Linked DNA regions of Homo sapiens: region 2 is linked to region 1. Evidence: fine-mapped expression QTL. A gene starts in region 1. The other region holds a variant in brackets. All regions are shown on one strand. Distances are between the middles of the regions.

The links. PIP is the estimated chance that this variant, and not a neighbour inherited with it, causes the effect. A credible set is the group of variants that fine-mapping cannot tell apart.
Region 2: its variant is the best candidate, but not a certain one, in a credible set for the expression of DIPK2B in gastroesophageal junction (GTEx, PIP 0.88).

What each region holds. Positions count from the first base shown.
Region 1 is chrX:45,198,189-45,203,565 of GRCh38, reverse strand. It overlaps DIPK2B (divergent protein kinase domain 2B), which reads left to right and starts at 2,690. Exons shown (of 5, transcript NM_176819.4): 1 at 2,690-2,972. The coding sequence starts at 2,740.
Region 2 is chrX:45,154,975-45,160,351 of GRCh38, reverse strand. DIPK2B (divergent protein kinase domain 2B) reads left to right here. Exons shown (of 5, transcript NM_176819.4): 3 at 2,464-2,637. Among named protein-coding and RNA genes, the nearest start is that of DIPK2B, 43 kb to the left of the region's middle. The variant T/G (reference allele first, on the strand shown) is at 2,431.

The DNA of each region.
Region 1 (5,377 bases):
TTAAAAGAGCTAAGTTTTTTTACAGCTATATAACCTTTCTGTATTTGCCTCTCATTGTTTCATAATGACTAATGATCCTATTTAATCAAGTGTTTTAGACTTTTTGATATTTTTTACAAACTTCCCAAAATAAGCTTCTAAATTAAGTCTTTTTGACCTAGAACTAACTTTGGGACATTCCAGAGGACCCCTGTAATGTCTGAAAAGATCTGTGCATAATTTTTGATAGTAGATTGTAGCCATATTTGTTGTTTTTGAGTTTTATTGTCTATTTGTAGACTGGACTGAATTCTGAATTCATCTTTATTCCTCCAATCCAATTTTTTCCCATTTTTCAGACTTGAAATCACTCAGAACAAGATGTGCTCTGTTCCTGAAACCCTGCCAGGCAGTTATAGACAACTTGATGTGACTTCTGAGGACAACCCTTATGCCTGATATGTGGACCACTCAGGAAGATCATTGAAACCCTCAGTACCATAACCAGAGACATTCAAACTGCAAACCAGAAAAATATGTTTCAAGCTCAAATCTAGCAATCTTGTTAACTAAATTTCCTCTGGACTCAGACTGAATTTATAGTTTGCTCTAGTCATTGACCTTTGGTTTTCTTTTGTTTCTCTAGAAATGTTAGTTGAGTTGGTTTGTGAGGACCTTGGCTAAGGAACATACTGCAGTCTTTCAGTATTATCCTCCTGGTAGTCATCATAATCTCCCTGGTGAACTACATTCACTTGAGGGTCTTAAATGTGTGTTCACAGTCATCAACGGTATGCCAGATGATCTCACTGTAATTAGAGCAACAAAAATGAGATGAACAACAAAAGGAATCTTTCCTCAATGAGCTTGATGTTGTGACTTATGAGTTTCACACTGAGACAAGGACAACTTAGCCATGATGGTCACAGAGAGTGGAGCTTATGCCCAAGTTTTAGTCAATATCTCTTAAATGAGAGGCTGATCAAAAAGGATGAATTATGTTTTAAAATTCTAATTGGAAGGCCATTAGACTGAGGTGGCTCTGGCACTTTAAATTCCTGTGTGAACAAACCAAAGCCTAATGTAAATAGTAAATTTAAACTAGAAATTGTACCAATCAAAAAAATCACCAATTAATCTCTAACTAGGGACTTTCCACTCTAACCAATAAAAATTGTTTTCTTTGTCCTGCTTCTGCAAACACTATAAAAGTTTCCTTTCTTGCCCCTCCCAGCAGAATGTTTGCAGTCTGATACTGCCCTGATTCATGAATCGCTGAATATTCAAATAAACTCTTTAAAATTTAAATGTGCTTAAGTTTTTCTTTTATCACACCTGACACCAAAAGCATGATTCAAAAAGAAAAAATTAACAAATTGGACTTCAAAATCAAAACTTTCACTCTGCAGAAGACTCTGTTAAAAGAATAAAAGACAAGTTAGCCCTGGGGAGAAAATATTTGCAAGCCACATATCCAACAGAGGACTCGGATCTAGAATATATAAACAAGCGTCAAAACTCACCAATAAAAAGCAAACATGACCAGACATTTTACTGAGGAAGCTATACAAATGCTAATAAGCACGTGCTTCATCATCAGAAAATTGCCTTTACCTGCTCTTCCCACCAATCTTTAGCAAAACTTGTCAATTGTCCAGAGGCAATCCCCACTCCCTCTTACCTCCCTTTTCCTCACCCCCAGCCCCATCTTCCTATGCACTTTCTCATATTTTCAAACCGTGCCCCGCTCCCCACCTCCACCCTCTCACAGAATGTGAGGCAGCCTGACTTCCCTGATTTGGTTCTCAGAGGTTCTCTCTACTCCCAAATTAGCACTTCCATCTACTCCATGCTGCGGACCTTATCTTGGTATCCTGAGGAAGGCAATCCTGGGGCAGTTAAATCCTACCAAATCCGGCCAAGCCACCCCGAGAAGTGAAGCAAGTTGGTAAAGGAAGAGAAGCTTTCAGGTCTGTGGGAGAGGGATAGACACAGCTGTGTGCTGTCAGAGGGCTCTTTCTGGTGCTCCCCTCATCATGCCACAGAGGCCACCGGGTTCTTTCTGGTCTCTTGTTCTCAGACCAGCAAGAGAAGATGGACTAACCTGAGGTTTTCTCTTCCCTAAGCAGCAAAAAGCTTTCAAATCAGTGCTAAATGTGCCAGTTAATGGCAAGCAAGCTAACCTCTAGTTATTTCACAGGCAAATATGGTAAAAGTGGGGGAAGGAGGGCTGATTAAGGGGCAGGACAAATGACCTAGCACAGAGGGGTCAAAAATTGGGGTGCACGTGTAATCCATAGGGACAGATAAACCTGGAATTAAAACAGTGGAGGGTGGAGGCTTTCAGGATCCTTTGAAACTCCCAGGTGGAACGCAGGTTGGACACACATCCTGCATGGACCTTTCCTGCCCTGCCGGGATATCCTGTGTTTGTCAAAAGGACCACACAGGGAAGCCCTGACAATTGTCCTTCCCGAAATCTGCCAGCGAGCCCCTCCCCAGCCTGAAGCAGCCACCCCCGGCAAAGGAAGAGTAACTCTGGAAACAGCGTTATCAGCATCCTCCACTGACTTCCTCACCTCCTCCCCAGCCTCATTAGCCCCAAGCTCCTCAGCATCCTCAAAGAGAAACCTGGGAGGCTGGGATGGGGTCAGCACCCAGAAGCCAGCCCCCTCTGACAGCTTCCTCTTTGGCCAAGCCCTGCCTCTGTACAGCCTCGAGTGGACAGCCAGAGGCTGCAGCTGGAGCCCAGAGCCCAAGATGGAGCCCCAGCTGGGGCCTGAGGCTGCCGCCCTCCGCCCTGGCTGGCTGGCCCTGCTGCTGTGGGTCTCAGCCCTGAGCTGTTCTTTCTCCTTGCCAGCTTCTTCCCTTTCTTCTCTGGTGCCCCAAGTCAGAACCAGCTACAATTTTGGAAGGACTTTCCTCGGTCTTGATAAATGCAATGCCTGCATCGGGACATCTATTTGCAAGAAGTTCTTTAAAGAAGAAATAAGGTCAGAATATCAATCAAATAACTCTGAATCACAAAATTCTGTTCCCTTCTTGTGAAGATGTCCAGGAATTTGTTGAAAAGGAATCAGGATGTAATATGGGTGGGAGCTGAAACAAATCCATTTAATCAGAGTGGTAATGGTCTGAAGTTGGGGTGGGTAAGAGGGCAAGATGTGAAGCCAAATTCCAGCCCTAAATGCTAAATCCAACATTTCCTTTTGAACTGAAAGCTTGAAGTTTTCTTTCCTATGAATGGAGTAGCCTGGGACTGTTGAGTTTATCAAGTTCATTTCTCACAGTGGGCGGGAAATAAAATTTATAGAAAGCCTACAATGTGACACCTATTTTAAATCATTGTGAGAGTTAATGGTGTTCCCCCATTATTGAGGTGGTAAGCTGAGACATAGCCAGATAAAGTGACTTCAGTGGGGGGAAATGGGTAACTCTGTGAGATGATGGGACCCATTTCACTATATATATGTATCTTACAACATCGTGTTGTATACTTTAAATATACACAATAAAATTTATTTTTTAAAAAAGATTAAGTAACTTGCACAAGGTCACCACCGAATAAGTAGCAGCTGTGGAATTCAAACCAGGACGGTTTGCTCCAAAGTTTCTGAGCCAGCTTTCTGTTGTGAGAGATTGCCTTGATCAGAGGAAAACTGGAGCTTAGTAAATTGCAATGCACATGGCTCTCAGCAAAGAATGGCATCACACTTGGAATTTAAGCCTATCAACACACAGTCCATGAGCCTTTACCACAGCCAAACTCTAGCAGGTACTGGGGTGACAGCAACTATAACTCTGGTCATTGCCTTCCTGGAGGTCAGGACAAGGGGGTCATGTTATAAATAATAATAATAAGGCTTTGTCTGATGCAGGGCAGTGTAAAGGACCTCCAGGAGCTCCATTAATTCCAAATGGGAACTGGGGAAGGGCTTCCCCAGGAGAAGGTATTCTGAGCAAAGCCTTTTAAAGGATGAGCTGAAAAGTAACGGGAAGTGAAGGGCTTAAGGTGGAAGTAACATCTTAAGCAAAGGTGTGGGAAGAAGTGAGAGGTGCTTAGCTAGAGCATGGGGTGTATGTGGAGGCATGACAGAGGAGGAGGTTGAAGGGATATATGGGGCAGGGGGTCTTTAATTGCCATGCCAAGGAATTGGGGCCTTAATCTTGTGGACCAGTGGTTTCCAGTCTTTTTAGTACCAAAGACCCTTTGTCATATATATGCCCTTTCTCCTCCATCTTCCTCAAAGGACCTAACTTACGCTTTTAAGATTTGGTGACCAAACAAAAGGCATTAATTAACAATGATTTTATTTGCAATCTGTATTAATCAAAGACATCTTTGCTTACTCAACCAAATTACTAAATAGAAATAATAGATAGAAATACCAATCAAAAATGTTAAACTTCTTTTGTGAGGTATTTTATGGAGTTGGTGTGGACTTTTCCTATTAAGCCTTTTTAAAGGCATATTAAGCGTTTTTAAAGGCATTTTTGAAAGACCACTGATTGAGGAATCTCTACTGCAGGCCATGCTGAGAGTGTTAGGCTGGGGAGGGGCAACATGAGACCTGTGATTTGGGAAGAGCTCGTGCAAAGTGGACAGGACGGACTGGTGGTGTTGGCAGGGGCTGTGAGACCAGTTGCCATAGTCCAGGACACAAGTCACTGGGAACAAAGTAGAACAGGAAGGATACAGGTCAGTTCAGCTATAGAGTCATCCTGTTGACCAACACTATGCGAGAGGAAATAAATATGCAGATGTTGGATGTGAACTCAAGGTTTTCCGCCTAGGAAAAGAGATAAAGAGGACCAAGAACACAGGTGAAGCAATGCTGATTCCTTGGAGAGAGGCAATAAGAAGGCAGACATATTTTTTAAAAGGAGGGAGAGAAATTTAAGGATTCAACTGAGGAAGAGCTCTAGGATGACTGCATATTCACCAAAGGGCAATAAATGAAGTTTTTCTTACTAGCATTTGGCAGATGCTAGCCAAAATCAGAAAGCATTTCCCTAAATAGGTTTGCATTCCGTTAGAGTCCAGGATATTACTTCATCTCCCTTAGAATTCATGTTCCATGTGCCCGTGAAAGGGAAGTGTGCAGATACAAGCAGGAAAACACCAGGCAGGGCAGATTGGGGTTTATAGCTCTGCACATTGAGAATGGTCATCCTCAGCACAAAGAGGCAGAGAGAGGCAGTCAGTGGGTCTGGGGAGGTGGTCCTGTTTAGAGTCCTTTTCTCTACAATATAAATACCTTTTTTCTTATTATCAAAGTCGTGCCTGTTTATTTTAGTATTTTCAGGAAAGGTTGATTAAAGAAAGCACAAAATAAAATCACATATAATTCTTCCACCAAGAGATCACCCCTTAGTCAACATTTTGTTGCATTTCCTT
Region 2 (5,377 bases), 43 kb after region 1:
CCTGTAATCCCAGCTACTTGGGAGGCTGAACCAAGAGAATGGCTTGAACCTGGGAGCCGGAGGTTGCAGTGAGCTGATATTGCACCATTACATTCCAGCCTGGGGGACAAGAGTGAAACTTTGTCTCATTAAAAAAAAAAAAAGATCTACCTGAGACTGGGTAATTTATGAAGAAAAGAGGTTTAATTGGCTCACAGTTCTTCAGGTTGTACAGGAAGCATGGCTGGGGAGGCCTCAAGAAACTTACAATCATGGCAGAAGGCGAAGAGGAAGGATGAAAACTCACTCCTTATCACAAGAACAATAAGGGGGAAATCTGCTCCCATGATCCAATCACCTCCCACCAGGCCCCACCTCCAACACTGGGGATTATAATTCCACATGAGATTTGGGCAGGGACACAGATCCAAACCATATCAGGGTCCCACAAAAATGTTTTGATTTCTTTCAAAATCAGAAGAAAAAAGCAAACTTTTAATTCCAAGAAAATGTTTGAATGTATAATTTTAATATATTTGTCTTCATATCAATGCAGTTGTAAAATATAATTTGTAATATTTTTCATGGAGGAAGGGGCCTGTGAAAGCAAGGGTACTAAGGGCCCATGAAAGTTGTAATGTGGCCCTCCTCCTGTTGGCTCCAATAGCTCATTGCAGTCATAGCCCTTCCTGTGCCACATCTTAACTGCTGGGCACCTGATGGTCTCTCCCAGCTGAGAGACACCCCGGAGGGCAGGTCCTGTTTTGTTCCCTTTGTGTCCACAAATACAGTCTGAATACAGTCTGGTGCTAACTGCAGGGTTATATGATGTGATCCTCTCATTCCCAGTAAAGATAAGGGTGCAGGTCCTGCCTGGCTCCCTTATCTTTATTTACCTTTATCTATCCTTACCTACCTCTCACCCGGTGTACTGTCTTGGTTCTAATGCTAGGTATATGTGACTTGGAGCAACTGACTTAATCTCTCTACATCTCAGTATTACCATCTGAAAAGTGGAGCAATAATAAGTTCTTGTGAAGTAAATGAAAGAATACACTACCTATGAAGGGCTTAGAGCAGCTCCTGTTGTGTAGTAAGCACTCAATAATTATTACGTATTATTGTTGTTGTTGCTCTGGTCAATTAGTGTCCTATCTCTCCCAGAGATACCTTCATTTAAGAACTGGCTCTTGGAGAAGAGAAAAAATTACTTATCCCCACCCCCGCCCCCTGCTCCCCAATGATCATCTCTAATGGTGGAATTTCAGGCTGTGTAGGAGAAGATGATCAGAAGCAGAGGCCTTCTCATAGCCTCAAATCATTTTCTATGGCCTCCACCTGGGTAGTTTATGGAGAGGGGGGCAGGGCAGGGCCTATTACGGGGAAAAGGCACAGATATTAGAGTCTAACCCATTGGGTTCAAATCCTGAATCCAATTTTTCCAACCATTACCTACACTCTGCATTCCAATTCCTTGGCTGCACAATGAGGTTCATAATAGCACCTACTTCGTGGAGGGCCTGAGAGGATTCAATGAGGTACCAAATGTGAATTAACATCTATTAATTTACTTGATCCTCATGATCTCTTAGTGTCCTCCTCACTTCAAACTGGAACCGGAGGTACAGAGAGACTAAGTAACTTGTCCAAGGTCACACAGTTGGTAGTTGTGGAAGCGGGTAAAATTCTGGCAGGCTGGCCTCAGGGCCTTGTTCTTAACTCTATTTTTTTTTATCAGGAGGTTCATGCTCTTCTTTGTTCAGCATGGGGAAAAAGGTGTAGGGGCTGGCTAGAAAGTCATGAGAGAAAAAAAAAAGCCTAGGTTCGTATCTCCAAGTCTTATCCCAAGAACACAGTGGTGCATATAAAAACGCTCAAGTGTAGCCTCATAGTTGTGATATCCAAGTCAGATGGCAGAAGGAATCGAAAGAGCCCATGGCAGGGAATGAATTCAGCCTGGGATCAGCCTTCTTTCCAAGGGCAGGGTGGGGGTGCAATGGTGGGTAGAGACACAGGTAATGCAAAACTCAGATGGCCAGCTGAGGGGTGGAGAAAGGTGGAGTCCGCCTTCTCTCCCCTTCTTCCTCTCCCCTGCCCTGCCCTCAGCCTGCCCAGTGCCCTCCTGCCGTGCTGCCCAAGAGAGCTCATTCCCTTCTCTGTTCCCGGGGTCTCTGTGGCCCCGCCCCGAGTGTAGCCTGTGGTGGGGGAGGGGGCCTCCCACCCCACCCCCGAAAAGTGCTCTGGCCCCTCTTCCCAGCCACAGGGGTCTGCCCCCTGCTCCGCCTGGGCAGAGCTACCCAACCCCTCCCACCCCACAATCCCCACTCCTGCAGGTCTTTTCCCCACGCCCCACCTGGCCCCCCAGCCTCAAGATCTCCCTCACCCCCAACAGCAGGATCTGCCCATTCCCCCTCCTGCTAACCCCCCACAAGAGCTTAGCGCCCCGCCCCC[T/G]TCTTCTCCCGCCTCTCTCCCACCTGCGCGTAGGGCCTGGCCAGCCCGCTCCTGCGCTGCCCTTCGCAGCGACTCCTGGATCGCGTGGTCAGGCGCTATGCAGAGGTGGCCGACGCCGGCAGCATCTTCATGGACCACTTCACCGACCGTGACAAGCTGCGCCTGCTCTACACGCTGGCTGTCAACTCGCACCCCATCCTCCTACAGGTATGCAGCGACCTGGCAAGCCCTCTAGGTTGGGGGTCAATCTTGGACTCCCAGAAGCCTCCCTGGATTGAGCTCTCTCCCTCCTTTTACTGCATGTCTTGGGCCACTAGCCCGTGTTAGGACCTTTCTGGCATGTGTTGGCTTCTGCAGTGTGAAAGTGCTGTGGCTGCTGTAGAGGAAACAGGTGTGGGAGCCCAGAGCTGGGAGCGGGATGGGGATAGGAGGGAACAGTAGCCACCTTCACTGCCTGAGTGGCCCTGAAGGGCTTTGTGAAGGAGGCCGACTTTGACCTGTGCCTCAAAGATTAGTCAGATGGGGCCGAGCTCAGGAAGTGGAGAAATAGCCAAAGAATGACCCACCCAGAGAGGTACCTTGCATCTATGCTTGGAAGGAGAGGAAAACAAAGGAAGTAACTCCTAAATGTCCATACACAGGGGAATGGTCAAATAAATGAAGATGCATTAAGGGCCTGGAGATACACTGGTCAACAAGACAAGTATGGTGTCTCCTGCCTTCATGCAGCTTCCAGTCCAGTGGTAGAGACAGACACTTATCATGGAAACAAACACCCATAAAATATGTGGAGCCCAATCACTCCGACTGACCCCTGACCTCAAGGGTAAGGACACAGGGGTCACATAAAGGACACAAAGGGAACTAGAAATTGGGAGAGAGGAGCTGGAAAAGGAGGGGGAGTAGAGTGAGAAAGAGGGAAGAAGAGAAAGGTGAGGAGGAGAAGGAGGAAGAAGAGGACTAAGAAAAGGAAGAGGAAGGAAGGCGGGAGAGGAGGAGAGGGAAAGGAAGGAGGAGAAGAGAAGGAATAGGAGGGGGAAAAGGTGCAGGTAGAGGAGGAAGAAGCCACAGCAAAGACAGTTAATAAACACCGGCCAAAGGCATGATGATTGAATACATAATAACAGCTCTCATTCACTGAGCACCTGCTATGTGCCAGGCATTTGGCTGAAGGTTTGACATTATCTCATTTAATGCTCACAGCCACCCCCTGAGAATATTATTATTGTCCCCTTTTCCAGATGAGATTCAGTGGAGTTCTGAGATGTGAAGTGACTTGGCCCAAGTCACTTTTAGCCAACGTCAGCAATAGAACCCAAATGCAGAGCCATCTGCCTGCCCTCAAAGGCCACACTCTTCCCACTAAAACCTGCCTGGCGACATTGGCCTTTGAAATACTAGAAGAGGAAAAGGAATTGCGGGTTGTCCTGCACTCTCACAGATCTTTTCTCCCAGAAAAGACCTTGGCTACTTTTAGGCCTGGCTCTTGAGAGGCGTGGGATGAGAGCATGGGGCTGGGACTCAGCCCTGGGCTCTGCCCAGGAAGGGCAAGTCATGGAACCCGGGAATGGCTGTGTGGCCGCACCTGTAGACAACGACAGTAGGCCCAGGACTTCCCTCCGCGGTACACAGTAAGAAAGGTCCCCTCTGGGCCGGGTGCTGTGGCTCACACCTGTAATCCCAACACTTTGGGAGGCTGAGGTGGGCGGGTCACCTGAGGTCAGGAGTTCGAGACCAGCCTGGCCAACATGATGAAGCCCAGTCTCTACTAAAAAATACAAAAAAAAAATAGCCAGGCACAGTGGGATGCACCTGCAATCTCAGCTACTCAGGAGGCTGAGGCAGGAGAATCGCTTGAACCCGGGAGGTGGAGGTTGCAGTGAGCCAAGATCACACCACTGCACTCCAGCCTGGGCAAGAGAGCAAGACTCTGTCTAAAAAAAAAAAAAAAAAAAAAAAAGAGGTCCCCTTTAGGCAGGGGAAACTCAAATGGGCACGGGTTCTTCACAATGCAGTATGTGCGTTAAAATGGGCAGAGGACTGCAAAAAACCATCAGAGATGGGGATGACTTTATTTTTTAAAGAAGGAAAACAAGCAATAAAGTGCTGATATAGCCATTCTAGATATAGCTGCTTTAAGAAATAGTCAAGAAAAGGTTAGCCAGGATTCCTCCCCACTTTTCATCTACAAATCCACAGGTTTGGACCTCTTACAAGGAGGCAGAGGAGACAGGTCGGGGCTTCATGCTTCCCTAGGCCAGTTTTAGGCTGTCTGGAAGGTTCCAGTTAGTTGGGGAACATCTGTACGATGTATATAGCTACCCCAGCCAGACAGATTCACCCACGGCTGGCAGAAGAGGGGCTTAAGGCCAGTACAGTAGTTCCCAAAACTTCAGTCACCCACAGACCACCCTTATGATTTTTGCCCTGTCCGAGAACAAGGTACCTGTACTGTTTTATTTTTATATAAATATATATATATATATATATTTTTTTTTTGAGACAGAGTCACGCTCTGTCGCCCAGGCTGGAATGCAGTGGCACGATCTCGGCTCACTGCAGCCTCCACCACCTGGGTTCAAGTGATTCTCCTGCCTCAGCCTCCAGAGTAGCTGGGATTACAGACATGCGCCATCACTCCTGGCTGATCTTTGCACTTTTAGTAGAGACAAGGCTATGCCATGTTGGCCAGGCTGGCTTCAAACTGCTGTCCTCAAGTGATCCACCTGCGTCGGCCTCCCAAAGTGCTGGGATTACAGACATGTGCCATCACTCCTGGCCGATCTTTGCACTTTTAGTAGAGACAAGGTTATGCCATGTTGGCCAGGCTGGCTTCAAACTGCTGTCCTCAAGTGATCCACCTGCGTCGGCCTCCCAAAGTGCTGGGATTACAGGCGTGAGCCACTGTACCCAGCCACTGTTATTTTTTAAAATATTTTTCTTTAGT